Linked DNA regions of Homo sapiens: region 2 is linked to region 1. The links come from fine-mapping of genetic effects on gene expression. A gene starts in region 1. The other region holds a variant in brackets. All regions are shown on one strand. Distances are between the middles of the regions.

Region 1 (11,141 bases):
GTGCACGCCTGTAATCCCAGCTACTTGGGAGGCTGAATCACTTGAGCCCTGGAGGCGGAGGTTATAGTGAGCAGAGATCATGCCATGGCATTCCAGCCTGGCTGTAGTTGAGCCAGAAGGAGATATTTTGTGTGAAGGCTGAGGTGGGGGCTCTTCAGAGCCTCTGTGAGCAGGAGGCCTAAGCCGTGGTGGTGGACAGAGTTGTAGCTTTCTGCCTCTTTGCCCTTTGGCATGGACCCACAGGTGAACAGTACCAGCCTCCATCCCCAGCACACGCTCTGCAGACCTTCACGTCTCACAGTTCCATGTGAGCAAATGGACTGGGAAAGCTGTGTGGCCTGAGAAAAGGCAATGCCATGGCCTGGCTCTCACACAGTATTTTGTCTTGGATTTTGAAAAAGCCTTTTTTTTTTTAAATTTAATTTAATTTTTTTTTTTTTTTTTTTGCTTGTTTTGTGTTTTTGGTGGTGGTGGTGGTGGTGGTTTATTTCACACTGACCACTTGGAACAAATCCCATGGTTATCTGTGATTTTCATGCCCTGTTTCTGCTGGCAACCCTTCTGAGTGGGGTGACTCACTTTCCTGTATAAAGAGTTTGAGTAGCCCAGGTAGGAGGTGGAAGCAGCCATCTGGAAGGCCATTGGGATCCTTATGTCTGTCTCTTGGCTTCAGATAACCAGCTGGGCTTTGATAGGAATGATCTGAATGGAGACAGAAAACAGTGAAAACTAACGCTCCCCGCCCAGCCCTGTTTATATGAAGCATTTGGTTCCTCTCTTGACTCTTGAGTGATGATGAGATTCAGACGAGGCATTGACATTATGGTAAGAAAGGGAGAAAATGTATCTGTCTTGTCTGTCTATCTATCTACTGGATATATAGCTCCAAAAGCAGACAAACCCAAGGCCGTAAGGTGAACTAGGGTCTGCGTTTGGACTCCATGAAAACAAAATCCATGTTGAACAAAGTGATGTTTGTATGCAGTGACATTCTGGGTGACCCGTGTGTATCTGTCCATCGTGTGCAAGCCCTGAGCCCTGTTTCCCTCGGAAGATAGTGAGTGGTAGCCATCTCCTCACACGAACCACACATGTGGAGCACAGATGGCCCTCTCAAGGTAATTGATCTTACACATTTACTGTTCACCAAACAAGTGTCTGATGCATACTTGGGTATATTCCACAGCATGTGGACTGCGGTCCCCTGTGTTTGCCAGGAATGCTGTGCTCCATGTAGAGGTTTTCCTCTACTCCTCACTGCAATTTGCATGCTGCTCCATGGACACTTGGAGGCCTGTGCTCTGTTCCCTGTAACTGGAAATGTGCTCTGAACTTGTCTGTCTCCCTTGGCTGCTCCTGGCCCTTGGTACCAGCTCCCATGGGTGTCCACAACCACTTGGGACAGAAGGTAAAGGTGGAATTTCAAAGAGAAGCTTGCTTGGATCTTCAGTGACAAGCTTGGATGAGCTACATCCCTAACATGGGCCCTCTCAGAATTGCCAGGAGGAGGCTTTGGCAGGTGTCACAGGTGTCACGGGGCCTGCCCTCCTCTGCTGCGTGCAGTGGATGCAAGCCAGCCAACGTGTGGCCAGAGTGGCTGGATGGTGTCACAGCCCTCAGATGTCTTTCCTTCCACGTTTTTAAAAGAGTCCCAAATAACTCACTTGAAGTGTCTCAAAGGTGAGCAAGTTTTATGAAAATGAATCCTTCCTCAGTTAATTGATCAAATGGGTGAATCTTGACCCTCTCTAATTTCTATCCCAGGTCAGAGTGGGGAGCTGGTGTTAGCTGTGGGATTCACTGCAGCGTCCTACCACAAAGGCAAAGAAGATGAAAATGCAGCGTGCAGTGCTGGGCTTGATTCCCAAGTCGCAGTCGGGCTCCCGCTATGGTAGGTGGAACATCTCTCTAGCCTGCTCACAGAGATGGAACTAGGGAATTGAGGGAAGAGTTAGGGGGCCAGGGAGATTTACTTGAGTCTGATTTTCCAGGTGAATGAGAAGGGAGGGCTTGGTGCTGACACATTCTTGGGAGAGGCATGTCATCACCAACAGCATTTGTCATGATTGTTGTATTTTAGCAATAAGATTCAGCTCGTCAGATTTTTTGGGCCACCTCGAAGATGCTGACACATTTTCTGTGCTGTGATTGTTCGAAGGCAGAGTAGCTCTAACCACTGTGAGAAGCCCAAAGAAAAATCAATACCACCCACCCAAAGACCACCTTTCTGAAACACTTTTCTCTAGAAAACAGTGCCCCTTTTGTCCTAAGCTTCGTATTATTTTTGGATTCCATCTCTTTGTATATGCTACTCTAGTGTACCATGGAACACATTTTGGGAGCTGGCGGCTCTGCTTACCCTTCAGGGGGACAGCCCTGTCTGACCTGAGATTGGAGGATGCTTTCCAGTGTGAAGGAGTGTGAGGGAGCCGGCACAGACACAGAGTGAGAGCAGGGCCACTTTATTGGTATAGAGACTGCAGAGGGACCGGGGGCTTTAGCTGTTGGCAGCGATGGTGTCCTTAATCCAGTCCACATAGTTGTAGACCTTGGTGTAGACTCCAGGCCTGTTCTTCCAGGCACAGCCATGGCCCCAGGAGACAACTCCTTGGAGCTGTCCGTTGCAGACCACAGGGCCACCAGAGTCACGCTGGGGAGAAGAAGGGACAAGTTGTATAAAGAGAGAGATGGAGGAGGAATATAGCTACATTTACTGTGAACCTTAAAAGACCCCTTTCCAGCCAGCTCTGTGGCTCCACGTCCTTCCCACGGTGGCCCATTCTCTGTTCTTCCTAAGCAGGCAGCGTGCAGCACAAGGGAGCCTCCCTCATTTCCCAATGGGGGCACTGCAGGGAGCCTCCTCAGCCCCGCCACCTTCCTCGTTTCTCCATGGGGGCAATGCAGGGAGCCGCCTCAGCCCCGCCACCTTCCTCATTTCTCCATGGGAGCACTGCAGGGAGCCGCCTCAGCCCTGCCACCTTGGGAGTTCAAATCTTTTTCCCCGGTGGGGCCTGGGTATCGGTGGGAGCCTCAGCATGGGAAAGGGTCAAATCACCTGGCAGGAATCCTTGCCTCCCTCAAGGAAGCCCACACAGAACATGCTGTTGGTAATCTTTCCAGGGTAGGAGGCTTTACACTCAGCCTGGGTCAGCACCGGAGCATCCAGGCACTTCAGCTCGTCTGGGTAGTCAGCTGTGAGGATCAGGAAGAGATCAAAGAAAGTAGAAATGTGGGTGAGGCCAGAGAAGGAGACAATAATCTGGGATGGAACATTGAAGAGGAACACTGCCTCTGGAGAGGACTCCAAAACGTAAGTTCTGGCAAGGGACTCTGGCTTTTAGTTTCCAGAATGATCATTGTTGAACCCCTCCCAAGACGTGATCACAGCAAGTTCTCCATTTGTCCTATCTCTTGATTTTAGGAGCCAAGTCCTTGAGACTTTGCATCTCTCTGGTGCCCAGTGCAGAGACTGTGTGTAATGGGCACTAGAAATGTGTCTTAAGCCGGGAGGCAAGAGGATTCAAATAAAGGGGCATGCTTCGTTCTGGAAATTGTGAGGATGGGGGGAAGTAGAAGGACAAAGGGTCCCACTCACCACCAAAGCTCAGAGTGTTGCCCCAGCCGGAGATGAGGCACTCAGTGCCAGCAGCTGGAGGGGTGGTGGGCAGAGAGATGGTGGACACGCGGGCATTGATGACGGCAGGTGAGGAGAGTTTGATCAGCATGATGTCATTGTCCAGAGTGTCCCTGTTGTATTTAGGGTGGCGGATGATCTTGGCCGCATTGATGAACTGCTCATTCCCCTCCAGGACTTTGATGTTGTGCTCTCCCAGTCTCACCTGGATGCGGCTGATGGGCAGGGCAGGCATGGTGAAGACCTTCTCCCACAGCCTGGGCACCCCTCCCACCTTCCCCAGGGTCCTCAAGCTCACTGCTCATGGATAGCTCTGGAGGCATGGGGTGGGGTGTGTGGCCATATTGCATGGGCAGGAGAGGGATGTGGGTCAGTGCAGGTGTGAGACCCAGGACCTTTCTGCTTCAGAGGCTGGTGGTAGTGGGGTGGGGAAGAGTCAAAGGGATCCCACCAGAGGCTGCTCCTCAACCTGCCTTCCCAGCCTCTTTCCCACAAATCTCCACAGTCACTAGCACTGTGGGCACAAAGAGCTCCTCGTAGTTTTCCCAGCATTCTTCACCCCAGGTCTTTGCTAACTGCGCACAGCGCCTGTTCCTCCCTCCCTTCTTGGCCTAGTGAGCACCACCCTTCTGTGTAATCTAATCCAAGGGTAGCCATAGCATTAGCATCTCCTGGGAACTTGTTAGAAATGTAAATTCTTGGTCCTTACCCCCACCCGCTGATCAGAACCTTGGGGATGGGACCCAGTGATTTGTGCTTTAATAAGCCTGCAGGTGGTTTTGACGCATACTCAGGTTTGAGAGTTCTTCGTGTAGGCAGCGGTTCTCAGCTCTGTCTATACACTCTACAGTTACCAGAGGTAGAGTGTTAAATACTCACTGGTATTCACACTGTCTTCCTGAGAAGTTTGAGTTAATTGCCCTGGGGTAGGACACAGGCATCAGTATTTTCAAAAACTCTGTCTTAGGTCGCTTTAATGTGTAGCTAACCAGCAAAAGGTACTTGCCTGCTTTTGTCACTAGCTCTGACAACTCCAAGATTATCCCTGCCTGCTTTTATGACCACAACCCTTGCTGTTTCATGGATTGGCCTTGCTCTGGAGAGTCAGCTGCTGTCAACAAGTTTTCTTTTCCACCACCTCTCCCATCCGTCTTACCCAACCTCAGTACTTCCCTGGGCTGAAGCCAAGCTCTCCCAGGCAGCCTGGCTGGGAGCTTTGCAGTCAGGGGCCCCACACTTACGTCTTGTAGCAGTGAGCTGCTGATACCACCCACTGTTCGCTGATGAGGGAGCCACCGCAGAAGTGGGAGCCAGAATTCAGGGACACCTGGTAGGGGAGAGAATTCTCCTCACAGGTGTAGCCCCCAACAATCTTGTCATCATCGTCAAAGGGGACAGCAACTGGAGTGGAAATAGGAAGGGAGAAGGCAAGTCAGTAGCATGTTAGGGGTGGTGCTCCCAGCCTGCGGTTGCTTCCTGCCAATTAGAAATCCTTAACAAGCCCAGTGAGGCCAGGCAAGGGAGGGAGCGCTGCCACCCCTGGTGAGCATCACTGGATGTGGCTCCCAAGTCTCTGTGTCTGCAGGGCACGTAGCTAGGTACCCTGCAGGGGCTCAGATCTCTCCTGGGGACACCAGGCTGAGGATGCAAGGAATGTCCTCAAAATGCTTCCAGTGGGGTAGCAGTTGGTATGTTGTTGTCTCACCCACTGAGTGCTTCTCTCTTTTATTCATCACCTGTGTACTTGCCCTGGCTATTTGAGCCCTGGATTGTCAGGATACTTTGGCTAAGCTAGGAAAACCCCCTGTCTGGGTAGACCTGGCCATGACTAGCTTCCCCCATAGCTCAGATCTGTGCAGTGAGGGCAGAGTTGAGGGCAGCCCCAGGCTCACTTTGGCATAACAAAGGTAGACTTTGTTATTGGCCAATAGAAGAGCAATTCTTAACTTTGGCGGCATGCCTGGAAACGTTAAAAATCACCTGGGAAGCTTAAAAGCCCAGTACACAGGCTGCACCCCAGACAAATGAAGTTAGAACTTCTAGAGTTGAATCTCTGGCATGAGTAATTTTTGAACCTCCCCAGGTGCATTCGAGGTTAAGAGCAGCTATAGTGGTGCTATACTGGTGCTCTTGGAGCCAAGCCTGAAGCCTGCCACTTCATTTCATGGGCCAGCCCCACCTGGTCTCCCTTCCCAGCTTCTCCAACCACAGCTCGGATATGGATGAATGACAGTGGTGGGAGTGAAATGAGGGAAAAGGTGAAACAGGTGAGGCTTAAAGAGAGCCCAAGGAGGATGGGAAGGAGATATGTCAGATGGAGGAAATAGAATATCAGAGCGCAGTCAAAAGAGGAGAGGTGGCAAGAATGGCAGGGCATGTGTCTGCCAGGAAAGGGGGTGGGTGGGGCCTGAGGCAGGTCATGAAACTCGCCAGCAGCTCCCACAAAGGCAAGGATCAGGAATGGATTCATGGTGGTAGAGTGTGCCTGACTGGTGGTGGAAGGCCTGTCCTTATACCCTTCCAAGAATCAGGAGAGGAGGTGTCTGTGAGGTGAGGGTCACAGTTCTTCCCAGCACAAACACACCTGCAGCTTTCCCCTTGCCAGGGTCTTGCATCAGCTCGGCTACGTTTGGCCACTCTGTGGGTTTGTGATTCACAGGTGATAAGGAAACTTGCCTTCTGAGAGCAGAGAGGGAGACTGGCTATTTCCTGGAAGGATGCTGGGATGGGGAAGACAGGGGAAACCAATCCCCGGATCACACAGCTGGGCTTTCGTAGGCCGAGGAGATGAGGGTTAGAAGGAGGGAGAATGGCCTGGGTGTCTAGGAGTCCTTTTAACTATTGGGGATGTATTTAATAATGTACTTAAGGAAGGGCAAGCATTGGTAACAAGCTTGGCTTTTCAGTTTCCTGGAGCCCCCACGAGAGGAGGAAAGTCTTATCTAAGGCTCATTTTTGTGAATATGAATATGCTTCTTTGCAGTCACTGTGCACAAAGGTCAAATCCAAGACTTTGGGTATCCAGAATTCCAACACTAAGGGGTAAGGAGAAGGGAGACTTAGCATTCCATAGGATTCTGGGCTTCCAGATGGCTCTCCTTCCTACCAAGGCTTAAAAGGATGGGAAGTGTTTCAAAGAAGGAGGGGACACAGGTTAGGTAGGAGCTTACTCAGTGCATCTGGAGGATGGAAAACCAATGGCGCACTCCTCCCCTTCTTCAATGTGAAGCCACTTGTCTCTCTCATGTGCATCCTGTCATAGGTTCTTTTTATGCAGCCTCACGGTTGTCCTGGCAACCTGCACTTAGGGTGATGCAAACTGACTCACCTGCTCAGGGCTGACAGCCTGAACCAGAATGACATGCCCCTGATCAGATGTCAGAGTTTGGACCATGGTAAATCTGGGTTACCATCTGATCTGAGAATCAGCAGTAGGTAGAGATTTTAGCACATGGTAAATGGGTCACATATTGGGATCAATAAGAAGATGTGGAGGGGTGGGTCTAGAATTTTCTATTTTAGATGCAGTGAGATTATGCTGGGCTTAGTATCAAGTGAATCTTCCCAGAGAATATCCTGATTTGGGCCCTACCAAGGCTACTAAGACACAGTTGTGTAATTGACTGAGGCACAACCTGGCCAGAGTAGTGTGGAGATGGAGATGCTGTCTGTGATCAAGTCTAATGATGTAAGGAAAGGAGGAGCTTCCTTATGAGGGTGCTTTCCCTTCTCAGCAACTCTGAGCTCAGGTTGGTGATGGGCAGGAGTGAGCAGAGTTCAAGTTTAAATTCTTTGAAAAGTAAAAGAAGCAGAGATGTTCTGGAGATGGTGAACAAAATGAGAAAAGCTCAGAAACTTCGTGTTGAGATCGGACATGGCCAGGGGGCTAGAGGGAGGAAGCAAATGGAAACCAGAGGGAATTGGAAAAAATGCGAATGTGGGGCCCGTGGAGTTGAGAGGACACACAGAGTACCTTCAGGTTCAGCTCCTGGCATGGCCAACGAGCCAGCTTCCCCAAAGCCAGGAGATCCACTGCTCAGAGACCCGCTCTCCACCCCACATCCCCTCTAATCACTGATGGGCTCATACCTAACACTGCTGTACTTAGATGGTGCATGGTGCCTGACAGCTTTACAAGAGTTTTCACATAAGCAACAGTGGTACATTGCTTTTCAGTTATGCTGAGTTTCACAGTTTGACTTCCCACAAACATGCTAATTGTGATTTGTGCAGAGCAAAATTATTTCCATTTATAGAGGAAGAGACTGAGATTCAGAAGGATTCTGTCTTGCCCAAGAATACAGATCTTGGCAGAGCTCACCATAAGGCCAACGGAAGCCATGGAGATCATTGTGAACTGTGGGAATTGCTGCAGGTGACATCTAAAAGGAGATTTATTGAGGATCAAGGCAGAGGTCCCCAGAGGACAAACTGTGCATCTGATTCCTTCCTCCTGCTTTTCTTCCTGGCAGAAATAGATGATTGAATTCATCTTTCTCCTGGCACCTTGTCTCAGAGACTTCCCTTGCCACAGTTCCAGACCCATCCAGGCCATGACTGCCATGTAGATGACACACCTCTCTGCTCACAAATGACTGGCCAAGCCTGAGGTATCCAGGTTTTGGAGCATTGATAATATGGGTTTTTCCTGTGTTGCCCCTAAACATGTTGTTTCATTTTGTCCCCTTGTCATGGGGTCTTCACACAACTCCTGCCTTAGAGGATAAGGAAAGGCTCTTGCTGTAGCAACTGTAGACACCAGTGTGCACTAAATAGGGAGGTGAACCTTGGCAGAAGATGGAAACTTTTTTTGGAGAACGGGATTTTTGGATCAGTGCTTGTGGCTCTGACTCTGTCTGAAAGGAACACCCAAGAATATGAGGATTTTCTGTATCTAGAGCTTGAAGATTAGCCTTCTCCAGTATTTTGCGCTCTTCCTTAAATGATCACAGTATAGTCTGAGGTCAGCTTTCTTCAAAAAGGAATGACCTTACAGGCAGAGAAGATAGCTATAGGTGGAGACTGTTACCTCATACTGTAGACTCAGATGTGTAGGATAGGTTCAGATCCAGCTGCCCAAGCTCAATTTGGAGGACATGCCATTCTTGGTACTCTTCATCCTGAACTAGAGATTTCTTTGTCTTCTTCTCTAAGACATCTTTCTGGCTTGTACTGAGTGCTTAGCACATCAAACCACTGTCCTTCAATTTTGATAACAGTGAATCAATTCTGTGTGCTTACTATATACCATGTTACTATACAGCATGTAACTCATATAAGTTAAGAATTTTTTCTTCATTTTACATTACAACCACTTATGCGATTGCCCATTTTCCAGGTGATTAAATGAGCTTTCTGGAGGTAAAGTGACTTGCTCAAGGCCACACAGCCAGTAGGTTTTAAAGATGGGATGTAAGTATGGTGGTCTGACTCTAGGGCCTCCATGCTCTGCCATAGGGCATTCTGCTTTGCCTCCTCTGAGCTGATCCTTGGTGCACCCTCACTGAGGTGGTAGGCAGCAGATATTGTTCTCTCCTTTTTACAAATCAACAATCTAAAACTCAGAGTTCAAATGACTTCTCCAGCAAAGATCATACTAGAACCTTCCCTATTCAGACAAAGTTTGTTCCTCTTCACGTTGCTACATGAGTCTTTCAGACCTCATAGTAGTCTGAAAAGTGTCAGATTCCAAATTCTTTTTTTTTTAACACTTTCTTCTCCAAATCCCACCAGATCTTTCTCCTAAGCTCTTAGTCAACTCCTCCTTGGGTTCCAGCATCCTTTATCATTCTGCAAACAGATTGTCAGATTTTAGGCTGTCTTCCCGCCAAACTCCCAGCTCCTCTCCTCATCCATTATTTTTCTTTTTTTCTAAGCTTCTTATCTCCCCCACGGCACAATTTCGCTTTATCCAATAAGGAATTGTTTTTGTTACTATCTCATCCCAGGAATCACTGAATCTGGAGAGTGAAGGGAGTGCTCTGTATGATCCAGAAAAGTCTGACTTGTAATATGGAGTCGCAGAGCATGAACTGGTCAAGGCTGATCAGCTAAATGGAGTAGCCCATTCCTCCCTGCCTGCCTCCTGCCCCTCCTCTTGCCTGCCCCTTGCCCCTCCTTCTGCCTGCCCAGCTGCTCCCCACCTTGAAGCCATGGAAGACATGCAAGTTTTATGCCCGGAGGGAAGTTTATAGTTCTGTTTATTCTTCAGGCTTCCATGTATGGGTAAATGGGGAAGCCTCTAGCACTTGAGACTAAACCTAAATTATTTTAAGGATAGATTGATTGCTGTAATATAATGGTGAGTCTTTCTGTTCACATTTCAGCCACTCCTTGACCACTCTCTTGTTTGGCCTATTAGAGCTGCTTAAGTGAGTCCAGGCTCCCTTAGACAGGAAGCAGAAGAAAGCCAGGACAGAGTGCAGGAGAAACACCCATATAGATTCTTATGATTGTAACATCTAGGATCTGTTTCATGATACTCAGAGTTTAATATATGGTGTATGTATTTATTTTTCTAAATTATACTAGCTCTAAATTGAGGCTCACAAGCTGGGTTTGGTGATAAATCCAGTCAACTGGGTTCCTTCTACTCATTTAGCTTATAAAAGTCTAGACTGTGTCATCCATTTGGAAGGCAGCCAACGGGTCAGTCATTTCCTCAAGATCGTCTTGGCCAGGAGGGCCTTCAAAAGGCTCCCAAGGCTCAGAACTGAGTGCTCCATCCACACAGGCACCAGCACAATTCCAATTGAGAACCTTCCACCCCAGAGCCACTGTGTTTGAGCAGGTTCTGCACTTTGCTTCTCTGTAGAACCCATATCATCTGTTCCATTTCCCAGTCTTGGGTAAGGCAGCAGAAGGGGATTGGCACATGACATGTGTACCTTTCTATTCAAATACAAAGCTTGTTATCTGTAGTCTTCCTACAGTTCTGTAAAACACTGGAAGTTATTCCTCCTATCTAGCTGTAATTTTGTGTCCTTTAATCTTTTCCTATCCTCCCCGCAACTAAAACATAAATTTGAAACAAGAATAAAAAATATAAAGTTTGAAGTGCTTATTCCTTTCCTGTTAGAATAATCTAGTTAATTTTCTTATGGGCTTAGATTATCTAAACTCAAATGCCTTTGTAGAGTTTTCCTCCAGGGAAATCCACTGCAGCTGTATAAATTTTCCTCTTTTCTTTGAAATCATATTTATTTACTCACAAATATTTATTGAATTCCTGGAGTGATATTCCAGGAGTTCTTCTAGGCTATTTGGAAGCAGCAATGAAGAAGATAGAAAAGGTTCTTGTTTCAGTGCATTTGTGAGTACACGTGCATGCATTTATGCACATGTGAGGAGGTATAGAAATGGGATGCACATACATCGCTTTCAGTAAATGATGAGTATATATTAGTAAAATAGGATAAAGTGATAATATAATATGGGATGACTGCTGAAGTGCTTTTACGTAGAGTGGAAGGGTCTCTTTGGGGAGGTGGCATTTAAGTTAACACCT
Region 2 (11,141 bases), 37 kb after region 1:
TTTCTGATCTATTTATTTATTTTTTGAGACTGAATTTTGCTCGTCTCCCAGGCTGGAGTGCAATGGTGCAATCTCGGCTCACTGCAACCTTCGCCTCCTACATTCAAGCGATTCTCCCGCCTCAGCCTCCTGAGTAGCTGGGATTACAGGAATGTGCCACCACACCTGGCTAATTTTGTATTTTTAATAGAGACAAGGTTTCACCATGTTGGCCAGGCTGGTCTAGAACTGCTAACCTCAGGTGATTCAGCCTTGGCTTCCCAAAGTGCTGGGATTACAGGTGTGAACCACTGCACCTGACCTCTGATCTATTTTGACTTAACTTTTGTATATGGTGTGAGGTAGGAATCCAACTTTATTCTTTCACATGTGAATATCCAAGTGTCCCAGCCATTTGTTAATAAGACTATTCTTTTTCCCTATTGAATTGTCTTGGCATCTTGTCTATCCTTCTACTCTTAAAAGTAGATTTCATCAACTCTTTACAGAAGGACCTTGCCTATAGCCAGCTCAAACTGTGAATCAGAAGACTGATTAATTAAACTATTATGATTCACATAAAAATAATTTACTAGAGTATACAGACAACACTCATAACAATGAAAACAAAGGGAAGATTCTTACTCAGCCTGGAGGAAATAGGAGAAAGATTATAGAGGGTAGTGTCATGAAAGCTTCCTGGAAAAACACACAGGCATTAGTCAGGTAGTGTGGGCAGAGTTCTAGTCAGAGCAAATAACACATGCAAAGGCTGAGAGGCAGTTGCAGCCAATCGTCCATATGGTGGGAGTGAACTAGATAATGTCACTTACTCTCTTTACCCTATATCATTTCCACCTTTTTTTTTTTTTTTTTTTTGAGACAGAGTCTCGCTCTTTCGCCCAGGCTGGAGTGCAGTGGCGCGATTTCTGCTCACTGCAAGCTCCGCCTCCCGGGTTCACGCCATTCTCCTGCCTCAGCCTCCCAAGTAGCTGGGATTACAGGTGCCCGCCACCACGCCCGGCTAATTTTTTATATTTTCAGTAGAGACGGGGTTTCACCGTGTTAGCCAGGATGGTCTCGATCTCCTGACCTCGTGATCCGCCTGCCTCGGCCTCCCAAAGTGCTGGGATTACAGGCGTGAGCCACCACGCCCGGCCTCCACCTTCTTTAGCAAGCAAAACCACATGTAATTCTCTTGCATGGATAGAATGCATTAAATCTTAAAATTTTGTTAGACTGGGACTGACCAAAAGAATATACTTAAAAGTAAAATCAAACAGACATTATGGTCCTATGTGCCCAAGAGTCTCAGGGAAAGGATAGAAACCAGCTCACACATGGGCCTGAGGAAGGCTGAGTTAGAAAAGACTTAAGTCAACTGTTATCTTAGTTTCAGTACATTCTATTTCCTACATCTTCCTAAAGGAAACCGAATTCCTAAATTTTCCTTTAAGGAGGAATATAGTCACATAATAGAATATGAACTATGTAGTGTCAGACCTAAGTTCAATCCTGGTTTTGCCACTTTTACTGGTAAGACCTTGGACAAGTTCTCTAATGTCTCTGAATCTCAGTACTCCTCCTTCTAAAACAGGGACATTAATACCACCTTGGAGGGGTCCTGTGAGGCTTACCTGAAAATGTCTAGCAGCTGACTAGAATACATGTTTAATAAGTGTTAGCTTCCTCTCTAGTCTGGTGCTCGTACACTATTCCCGCAATAATAGGGGAGAGACTTGGGCTTCTCTCCTGGAAGAATATATTTTGACCTAAAGTTGCTGTTCTTTGCTTTTGAGTAGCTGACCCTAAATGGGCAGAATTACTGTTTAACATCAGATAATCCTAGAGAGGGCAGTGGCTGAGCATAACTTTTTAATGGGAATGAGACATGTGTTTGGTCAGTAAGGAAGTAGGTTATAGGGTGATCACAGAATATTATTTTCATCGTTTTTGTACATTCTGAATCTGTCCTTGCCGGCACGAACTCTCAGGTGGCTTCTGGTCTGGGTTTGCTTTGGAATACCTGACTCAGCTTTTTGTAACTCTGCAAATAACAAGGTTAATACCTCTTCGTGTTCTATGAGCTGCTTAGTAACAGAATGCAGGGGATGCAGAGGGTTCTGTGTTGAAAGTCCTCCATTGCTCACAGGTGGATGTGACTGTGGCCGCAGTCCTGAACTTCAGTTAAGTCACGTCCCTGCTCTACAGTGGGCTCAGGGGCCTGAGGAGGTCCAGAGTCTATCCCCGTCTTTAGAATTTGACAGCTACTGCCATCATTGTTATTTCCTGTATGGGAAGTTCTTTGGAACAGCACGGTCAGAAGGAGTAAGACCAGAAAGAGTCTGAAGCTTGTTCTGGCACGATTTCACCATGATATGGAACACAATTACTATGAAAAAGAACTCTGTTACCTCCCAGCTCGTTTTGGTTCCTGATCGGAAGATAGTCTGAGCCCCGATGTCTCTCTCTTTCTAAAATTTTCCATATGAGCCAATTAAATACAGGATTCTTCTGGGTGCTAAGGAAATAATATAATGGATAATGATAAAATGAATAGTTTTATCTGCAAGGAGTTTATAATCTAGTAGAGAGCTGTATACAGTCAGGTGCCGCATAATGCCATTTTGGTTAATAACAGACGGCATGTATGATGGTGGCCCCATAAGATTATAATACCTTTTTTTCTTCTTTTTTTTGAGACAAGGTCTCACTCTGTCACCCAGGCTGGAGTACAGTGGCACGATCTCAACTCACTGCAACCTCCGTCCCCAGGGTTCAAGTGATCCTCCTGCCTCAGCTTCCTGAGTAGCTGGGACTACAGGTGTGCACCACCACGCTTGGCTAATTATTTTATTTTATTTTATTTTTGAGGCGGAGTTTCGCTCTTGTTGTCCAGGCTAGAGTGCAATGGCGTGATCTCAGCTCACGGCAACCTCCACCTCCCGGGTTCAAGCTATTCTCCTGTCTCAGCCTCCCCAGTAGCTGGGATTACAGGCATGCACCACCACGCCTGGCTAATTTTGTAATTTTAGTAGAGGCAGGGTTTCTCCATGTTGGTCAGGCTGGTCTCGAACTCCCAACCTCACATGATCTGCCCGCCTCCACCTCCCAAAGTGCTGGGATTACAGGTGTAAGCCACTGCACCTGGCCATAATACCGTATGTTTAATGCATGTTTTCCATGTTTAGATACACACATACTTACCACTGTGCTATAACTGCCTACAGTGTGTGGTACAGTAACGTGCTGTACAGGTTTGAAGTCAATTCTTGGAAAAAGCGCTCACGCCTACAGACTCCCTTCAGCATCTGCTAACAGTGCGTATGCTCAGTACTGACAGTATACACCGCATAGCCTAGATGTGTAGTAGGCTATGCCATTTGGGTTTGTATAAGTACACTCTAGGATGTCCACACAACAAAATCGCCTAACAACCCATTTCTCAGAACATGTCCCTGTCGTTAAGTGCCACATGACAATACTTGTGAAAGACTGATTGTCCTGGGACGTACTGGTAGCAGTCCTAGCGCATAGCACACAAAGTGGGTAACTCTCACCTGAGAAACTGGGTAGGCCTCACAGAGGGGGAGGCATTTGATTTGGGCCTTTCTTCAAACTGTCATGAAAATTAGGCAGTTTTGCTGGATCCTGAATTCGAGATTGAAAAACAAATTGGACTAAATTCTATTTTCTCACTATCTAACAAGAACACTGGCCACTGAGTCAGAATACCTGGGTCCTAGCCTGAATGCTGCTAGGAATTCACTCTGTGACCTTGAGCAAGACACATAGCCTCTCAGGGTCCTAATTTTTTTTTTTTTTTTTTTTTGTGACAGAGTCTTGCTGTGTCCCCCAGACTGGAGTGCAGTGGCATGATCTCGGCTCACTGCAACCTCCACCTTCTGGGTTCACGGCATTCTCTGGCCTCAGCCTCCCGAGTAGCTGGGACTATAGACGCCCGCCACCACACCCAGCTAATTTTTTGTATTTTTAGTAGAGATGGGGTTTCACTGTGTTAGCCAGGATGGTCTCGATCTCCTGACCTCATGATCCACCAGCGTCGGCCTCCCAAAGTGCTGGGATTACAGGCGTGAGCCACCGCACCCGGCCTCTTTATTTGTTAAATAGGGAGTTTGGAAGAGGGACTCTCCATGGCTCTTCCAAATTCTGAAACCCCTTTATGTCTTTGCTCCTCATTAATACATCATAAAAACGAAATGCAGAAGTTGGAGCAAGTTTTAGTCATGGAGAAAGGAGGATGAAACTAAGGCTATGGCTATTACCTACAAAGAAGCAGTTACCAGTTGCCACCTCAGCATACATTAGAGTGAAAGGACATCTCTGGACTTCAAAGGTGGGCTTAGTTTTCAAACAACCAAAAAAAAAAAAAAAACCTTACATATATTTCAGTAATTAACACTATCCTTAACTCAGCCATGTGAAAGAATACATTTAGTTCAGAATTCTCTTTCTGGGTGCTCAAGGAAAATAATAATGGAAAGATCACTCCAAAGTCATGGAGTCAAATTTCCGAGATGCCAGGCCACTAAGGAACATTTCTTCAAGGCTTGGGCTCTCTGCCTTCTCCACCTCTTGGAAAAAGTGCTCAAGCTTACAGACAGACTCCTTCCTTCCTTCCCTCAGCATCCACTGCCAGTGGGCTTGTTCAGCACTGACATTAGTGAGCAGGCAGAGGCTGGGCCTTCCACTTTACTCAACAATCCTCCTTGCATAAGCCCTTACTTCCGTTTCCTCTTCCCCTTGCAAGAACTCTCATGCACACCCATGGATTAATCACCACTTGCACACTGGTGACTCCCACAACTTCATCTCTAGCTCTGACCTTGTCTCTAAGTCTCAGACTCATAGATCCAACAACCTGCTGAATAGACAGACATGCACATAAACATACAGATGTTTCTTAGACACCTCAAGTCAGTATGTCCAAGACTGAATTCACCATCTTTTTTCCCCACCAAATCGGCTTCTCTTCTCATATCCCAAACTTGGGTGATGGCTTAACGTCCAGTCACCCAGAAAGCCAGAATCCTGGGAGCCATTCTGGACTCTTCTCCCCTCACCATTGCCCCCAAAGACACCAAAATTCTGCTAAATTTGCTTCCCCAAGTATCCTGGTATTTTCTCTTTCCCTTCTGTGCCTGCAGCAATGATCTCATTTGGGCTCTCATTGTCTTTTTCCTAAACACTG[T/C]GAGGCCTCTAGTCCTGCTGTCCATGAATTCTTCTTCCACCCCGCAGCCAGTCATCCACCTTCCGTGTATATCTGACTACCCTACTGGAGGATGGAAAATGTTCCATTGGCTAACCAGCAGCCTGTGGAGGGGTCCACATCCCCTTGCATTGTGTATACCTGAATGTGGCTCCTCTCCAGCGTCACCTCCCAATTCTTCCCACCGTGAACCTGACAGTGTCCCCTTTGCTGATGTTGTCCCCTCTAAATTGCATGTCCTTTTCATTCCTCTTACTTGGTTTCTGTTTTTAGGCCTTATCTCCTGCAGGAAGCCTCTGTGAGTCTCCAGGCTGGGCTAAGTGCCCCACCTGTGTGTTTTCAAAGGACCTTATACATACCATGATTTTTATCACTTACCATGTTATATTAAAATTATATAGTGACATATGTCTTGCCCATTAGTCTACAGAATCTTCAAGAGCAGAGACCTTATCATCTCCATCATAAACTAGCACAAGCTTGATATATAATAATAGTTCTTAAACTGAACTGAACTGATGAGCTTAGCCTTAATCTTGAATCAAGAGAACACCATCTCCTAAATCTAGCCATTGGTAAAATTGTTGGTACCATCACTATTTTCGTACAGTTCTTAGAGCTAGGTAAGTCCTTTGATTTCTACTACTGTATCTCACAGACTAGCATATGTGCGAATCCTCTCCCCCCAGATGATATCTGAAATCACAAGATGAACATAATCCTGGAGTATCAATTTCACCTGAAGATTCTGGAAAAATGATTTTCATTTGAAAACAGATACAGACATATTTTGGGGTAGCATAAATTTTTTAGTATTAAGAGAGACTGCACTTATGTCAGGCTGTTCTCAGCCAAGTCTCCAGGTCCCTGGGAGTTTAGATTCTATTGTTAGTGCTGATGATTAAGAAACACTAATCTACAGATCACTGTTTTGCACTGTAGTTTAGTTACTGTTCTAAAGCCTCCCATAGAGAAATAAACAGCCCCAGTGAGACCAGAGCAGGAGCTATCTCAGTAATGGCCAGAAGAGAGAGACTTTCATCATGGGTCTGAGTTAGGTTTGAAAAGATGTCTGTCTGATTGACAGGTAGGTATTCTGAAATCAGCATAACAATGTGCTTTGTATAATGTATAAAATATGCCAGATTGTAGATCAATGTAGGGGAGGAGGCAGAAAAATGACCATTAGAACAGATCAAAGAGAAGCTCTGGATCAAAGTAGAGGCCGATCAAAGACACTGGAAGGAAGGGAAGGGCACTACAGTCAAGGGATGGAACATGAGGAAAAAAATAATCCAAACTGAACTGTGGCTCAGGAGGGACTCGATGCAGGGTGGTTGGTGATAACCTAAGAAATAATTAGATATTTAGTAAGGTGATATGGGAGTTTTGAATCCTGGAAATTCGACTTAGAGTCCTAGTAGTTAGATATCTTTCAAGTTTGTTTTCTTATAGCTATTCCATACCATCAGATTTGAGAATGAGGTAGCATCATCCAAGAGGTGGTGACATAAAAAGACGTAAGAGAAACAGAGGAAATAGCAAGGGGACAGGTAGGAAGGGCTAGTTTAAAACAGATAATAGGGTCAATTTAAGTCAACTAACATTTATCAAGTGCCTATTATGCATAAGGCACTATTCTGGGTGATGGAGTTGCAGAGGTGACAAGCCTGGGCCCGTGCTGTCAGGGAGTTTGCAGTCTTTGTTGAAGTCGCCTAAGAAGGAAAAGCTAACAGCAAAAAATCCAGGGTCTAATGGGCAGGCTTTCCAAGTGAGAGGCCTTAGGAAGCTAAAGCAGGAACCATTCCTATCAAACGTAGTATCTGTTCCCTTCACGTGATCTAAACCTTTCCCAGGGAAAAAAAAAAAAAAAGATGAATCTGCTCCAAGTTTTGATGATCACTGTGGGGCTGTACAAGGGAAAAATTGCATGGATTTGGAGGGTTACCTTCAAGGGCAGAAATTCTGTCCCAAATTCTAGAGGTATTAGAAAAATGTTTTCCCAATATAATCGATATTTTGCAAATGGTTATCAAAAAGTAAATTAGTTGTACATGTATTCAAAGAGTTTTCATTCCTTGGTATCTCAGAGCTTTTTCAATAGAAAAGAAAATGTGGAGAACATCAGCAACTTCAAAGTGGAGGCAGAGTCAAGGACACATTTCCCATTTTGAATCCTAGACCTCCACCTATCCACCTTACAACAAGAACCTCTGCTGTTAAGCAGATGACATAATAAATACATCTAAGTTATTATGTGACTTTTCTCAAACAGGAATAAATGGCTAGAAATGAGATCTTTCTACAGAGAAACCCATTATATGTACTAGAAAGCACTAGAGACAGGCGATAAGCCATCAAGAAGGCTTTCTCTGCCTAACCACCCTACAATGAAGCCAGCCAACTTACAAACCATGCTCACAGATGACGCACAGCATCCCTAAACATGTATAAAACTTCCAACATGAAAGGCAGGCCAAAAGCAACATTAAAAGTCACTTTGAAAATAGACACAGACATTGTAGGTAGCTGAAGAAAACTTTTAAAATGTAGAAAAAGTACTGAGTTAATATTCTCAGAGAAATAAGAGAAGATACTGCATTCATGAAATGAGAACAGGATACTGTAAAAACCATTTAGAAGACCACACCTCTCGCCAATAAAAGCTCCTGATAATTAAAAATGTAATGGTAGAATGTAAACATTTAATAGCAGTGTTGGAAGATTTATTAGAACTAAAAAACATGGGATTTTTTTAAAATAAAAAAGATAAAATCACAAGACAAATCCAAGAGATCCCATTTTCAGATTCAGTCTAAGTAATTTAAGTTTCAGAAAGAAAGAACGAGAAAATTATATAACAGAAGAAAACCACTCAGAACCGAAGAATGTAATTTTTGGATTGAAAAGACCTATAAAATACCTAGGACAGTGACTGATACCTCCCTGTATCTCCCTGCCAAAAAACCCCACCCCAACATTAAATAACAGCATCATGAAATATCAGAATATGAACAACAAAGAAAACCCTACAAATGCCCAGAGATTAAAACAAAATACAAGGGATCAGGAATTAGAATGGCATCAGCTTCTCAACAGCACCATAAGAAAATAGAATAAAATAGAGCAATGTTTTCAAAATTCGGACAGGAAATGATTTCTGATTAATATCCCATACCCAGCCAAACCAGCAATCAAGTGTGAAGGAAGAAAAGTGACATCTTAAATGGGCACAAGCTCAAAAAGCAACCGCCTCTTATGGGGCCTGAATCTTAGACACTTTTGGGAGCCTTCTTTAAGAAAAAGGCGTAAAATTACAAAAACTGTACATAATTGGGTATGAAAGTACATATGTATTCCACAAGAGATGGCCTAGACAGAAAAAAAAGTGCGTATGTATGTATGTATTTAGAATGAGAAAATAAATCACAACAGACAGGGACCGTGGAGGTTCTAGACTCTGTCTTTTCAGATGTGCTTAGAAAATTTACCCCAAATGCTTCTTGATGGCAGCCTGGCTTTTCCTCCCCACTCAACAGCTCCATGCAATTAGTAGCACTCAGAGGGCCCCCATGAGTTTCCTTGGCTCCAGGAAATGAGTTCTTGGAGATGAGTTCTCAAACAAACAACTAAAGAAAATGTAGCAATTCCTACACCCCATTCCATGGGGTGGGGGGAAAGACTGGTCAAGAAGGGGAATGTAAAGATCATGGTGTGTCATGTGCCTTAGTTGGGAATAATATACACACCAAACATTGACATATCAAAAATTTAGGATATAACCGTATTGGGAACTTAAAAGAAAGGGATGTGAAGGTGAGAGGGAGGGTGGGGGTGTAAAGGAGCAAACCGTCATCCTTCTTGGTAGGATGTCAATAGATGTTACCCAGAACTGGAAAAGAGAAGAAGAAATGGCCCGTATTTGCATGCTATTTAGGATATGGTAATATCAGAAAAACACAACCCAAAGCATTGAAAGTAATTGCCACTAGGGTTCTATACTCAGTATAAACTCAATAAAAACCTTCTACAATGAACGACTTCTAAGGCTATACATTGATTTATGTTGACCAAAGTAGAAAATTAAAAAATAAAGTAATATCCTCAAGAGGAGTGAGGCAAAAAGCTAACGGAAATAAAATAAAGGCACTTCTGCTAAACTACCCGACATTCGGTGTTTCTCAAAATGTATTCCCGCAACCACCTGCCCTCAGATGACCTGGCGTGCCCGTCCGGAATGGAGATTTATAGACCCAGCCCAGACCTACATCATCAGCAGTTCTCAGAGTGGTCCTTGCACTCTACCATTTAAAAAAGTTCCTCTAGACCCACTGCATTACCCATTGCTTTTTAGTAAAACAAACAAAAAACCAAAACAAATAACAACCTATTTAGAGATAGGATCTACGACTCATAAAACACACTATGGCAGATGCTGCTAGCTGCCTACCCAATGTTCATTCTCCCCCCTGCCTTATTAACAAAATTCCTATTTTGTTATTATTACTATTTTTTGAGATGGAGTTTTGCTCTTGTTGTCCAGGCTGGAGAGCAAGTGGCATGATTTCGGCTCACTGCAACCTCTGCCTCCTGGGTTCAAGCGATTCTCCTGCCTCAGCCTCCTGAGTAGCTGGGACTATAGGCACCTGCTAGCATGCCTGGCTGATTTTTTGTGTTTTTAGTAGAGATGGGGTTTCACCATGTTGGCCAGGCTGGTCTTGAACTCCTGACCTCAGGTGATCCACCCGCCTTGACCTCCCAAAGTGCTAGAATTACAGGCGTGAGCCACTGTGCCTGGCCCAAAATTCTTACTTTGATGTATTGGCATCGTGTCCGTCTAAAACACTAGATTCTCTCAGGTTCCCTCACCTTTAATAGTGTGTATGTGATATGGTTCTGGCCAATGACATGTAAGAAGTCTTTTGGGGTGGGCTACCAGAAAAGCTATTATTATTATTATTTATTATAAAGAAGGACAAGCCAGGCGCGGCGGCTCACATCTGTAATCTCAGCACTTTGGGAGGCCGAGGGGGGCAGATCACAAGGTCAGGAGTTCAAGACCAGCCTGACCAACATGGTGAAACCCCGTCTCTACTAAAAATACAAAAATTAGCTGGGCGTGGTGGTGCACGCCTGTAATCCCAGCTACTTGGAGGCTGAGGCAAGAGAATCACTTGAACCCTGGGAAGCGGAGGTTGCAGTGAGCTGAGATTGTGCCACTGAGTGAGACTCCATCTCAAAAGAAAGAAAGAGACGAGAGAGAGACAGAGAGAGAAAAGAAAAGAAAAGAAGAGAGAAAAGAAAAGAAAAAAAAAGACAAGACAAGACAAGACTCTTCTGGAGCATGCCTCTGCCCGTCTTTCTGCTGCAACTTGGGGAAGTGAGGATGAGAGCTCCATGCTAAGGAGGGTGGTGCGGGAAGACACAAGGAACCTGTCTCAGATGAGTTCATATCGGAACCCCTTTCCCAGCCTCAGGCTTCTCACCTCCAGACTTCTCCTTCTCTGAGAAAAACAAACTCCTTACTTGTTTAAGCCGTTGTAGTAGGGTTTTCTGTTCTTGTAGCTGAATGAACTTCTAATGACATGTCATACTTTTTCAGATGTTTATCTGACATACTGACCACATTTTATGTATGCCTGCTATGGGCACTGTGCTAGGAATAAGACAAGTAAAGCTCTGTTTGTCATGGAACCAGGAGAACAGTTAGAACAGAAGTTAGAACTTTAGCCACTATAATAACGGCTACAGTTAGAACAGAAGGTACATAGGCATTTCAGGCTGGGATTCAGGGAGGTTATGTTTGCTGTCACAGACCTCAAACCAAAAGAGTACATCAAAATAAGTCACTGGATTTATACATTTGGCAAATTCTCAAGAGACCACATGACAGAAGGAGCAATAATCTGAACATTGCTTTTAGCTGTAATTC

Evidence for each region.
Region 2: its variant is fine-mapped to the expression of PRSS3 in hypothalamus (GTEx, PIP above 0.99).

The regions. Positions count from the first base shown.
Region 1 is chr9:33,790,537-33,801,677 of GRCh38, reverse strand. PRSS3 (serine protease 3) reads right to left here and starts at 6,117. Exons shown (of 5, transcript NM_002771.4): 1 at 6,065-6,117; 2 at 4,876-5,035; 3 at 3,596-3,849; 4 at 3,056-3,192; 5 at 2,447-2,650. The coding sequence starts at 6,104. The coding sequence ends at 2,498. It overlaps UBE2R2-AS1 (UBE2R2 antisense RNA 1), which reads left to right. Exons shown (of 5, transcript NR_170204.1): 2 at 1,765-1,895; 3 at 3,126-3,310. RefSeq lists an enhancer at 5,068-5,568.
Region 2 is chr9:33,753,416-33,764,556 of GRCh38, reverse strand. The region is part of intron 3 of UBE2R2-AS1 (UBE2R2 antisense RNA 1); the gene reads left to right. It also overlaps a transcript of PRSS3 not described here. Among named protein-coding and RNA genes, the nearest start is that of PRSS3, 37 kb to the left of the region's middle. RefSeq lists a silencer at 639-839. The variant T/C (reference allele first, on the strand shown) is at 5,192.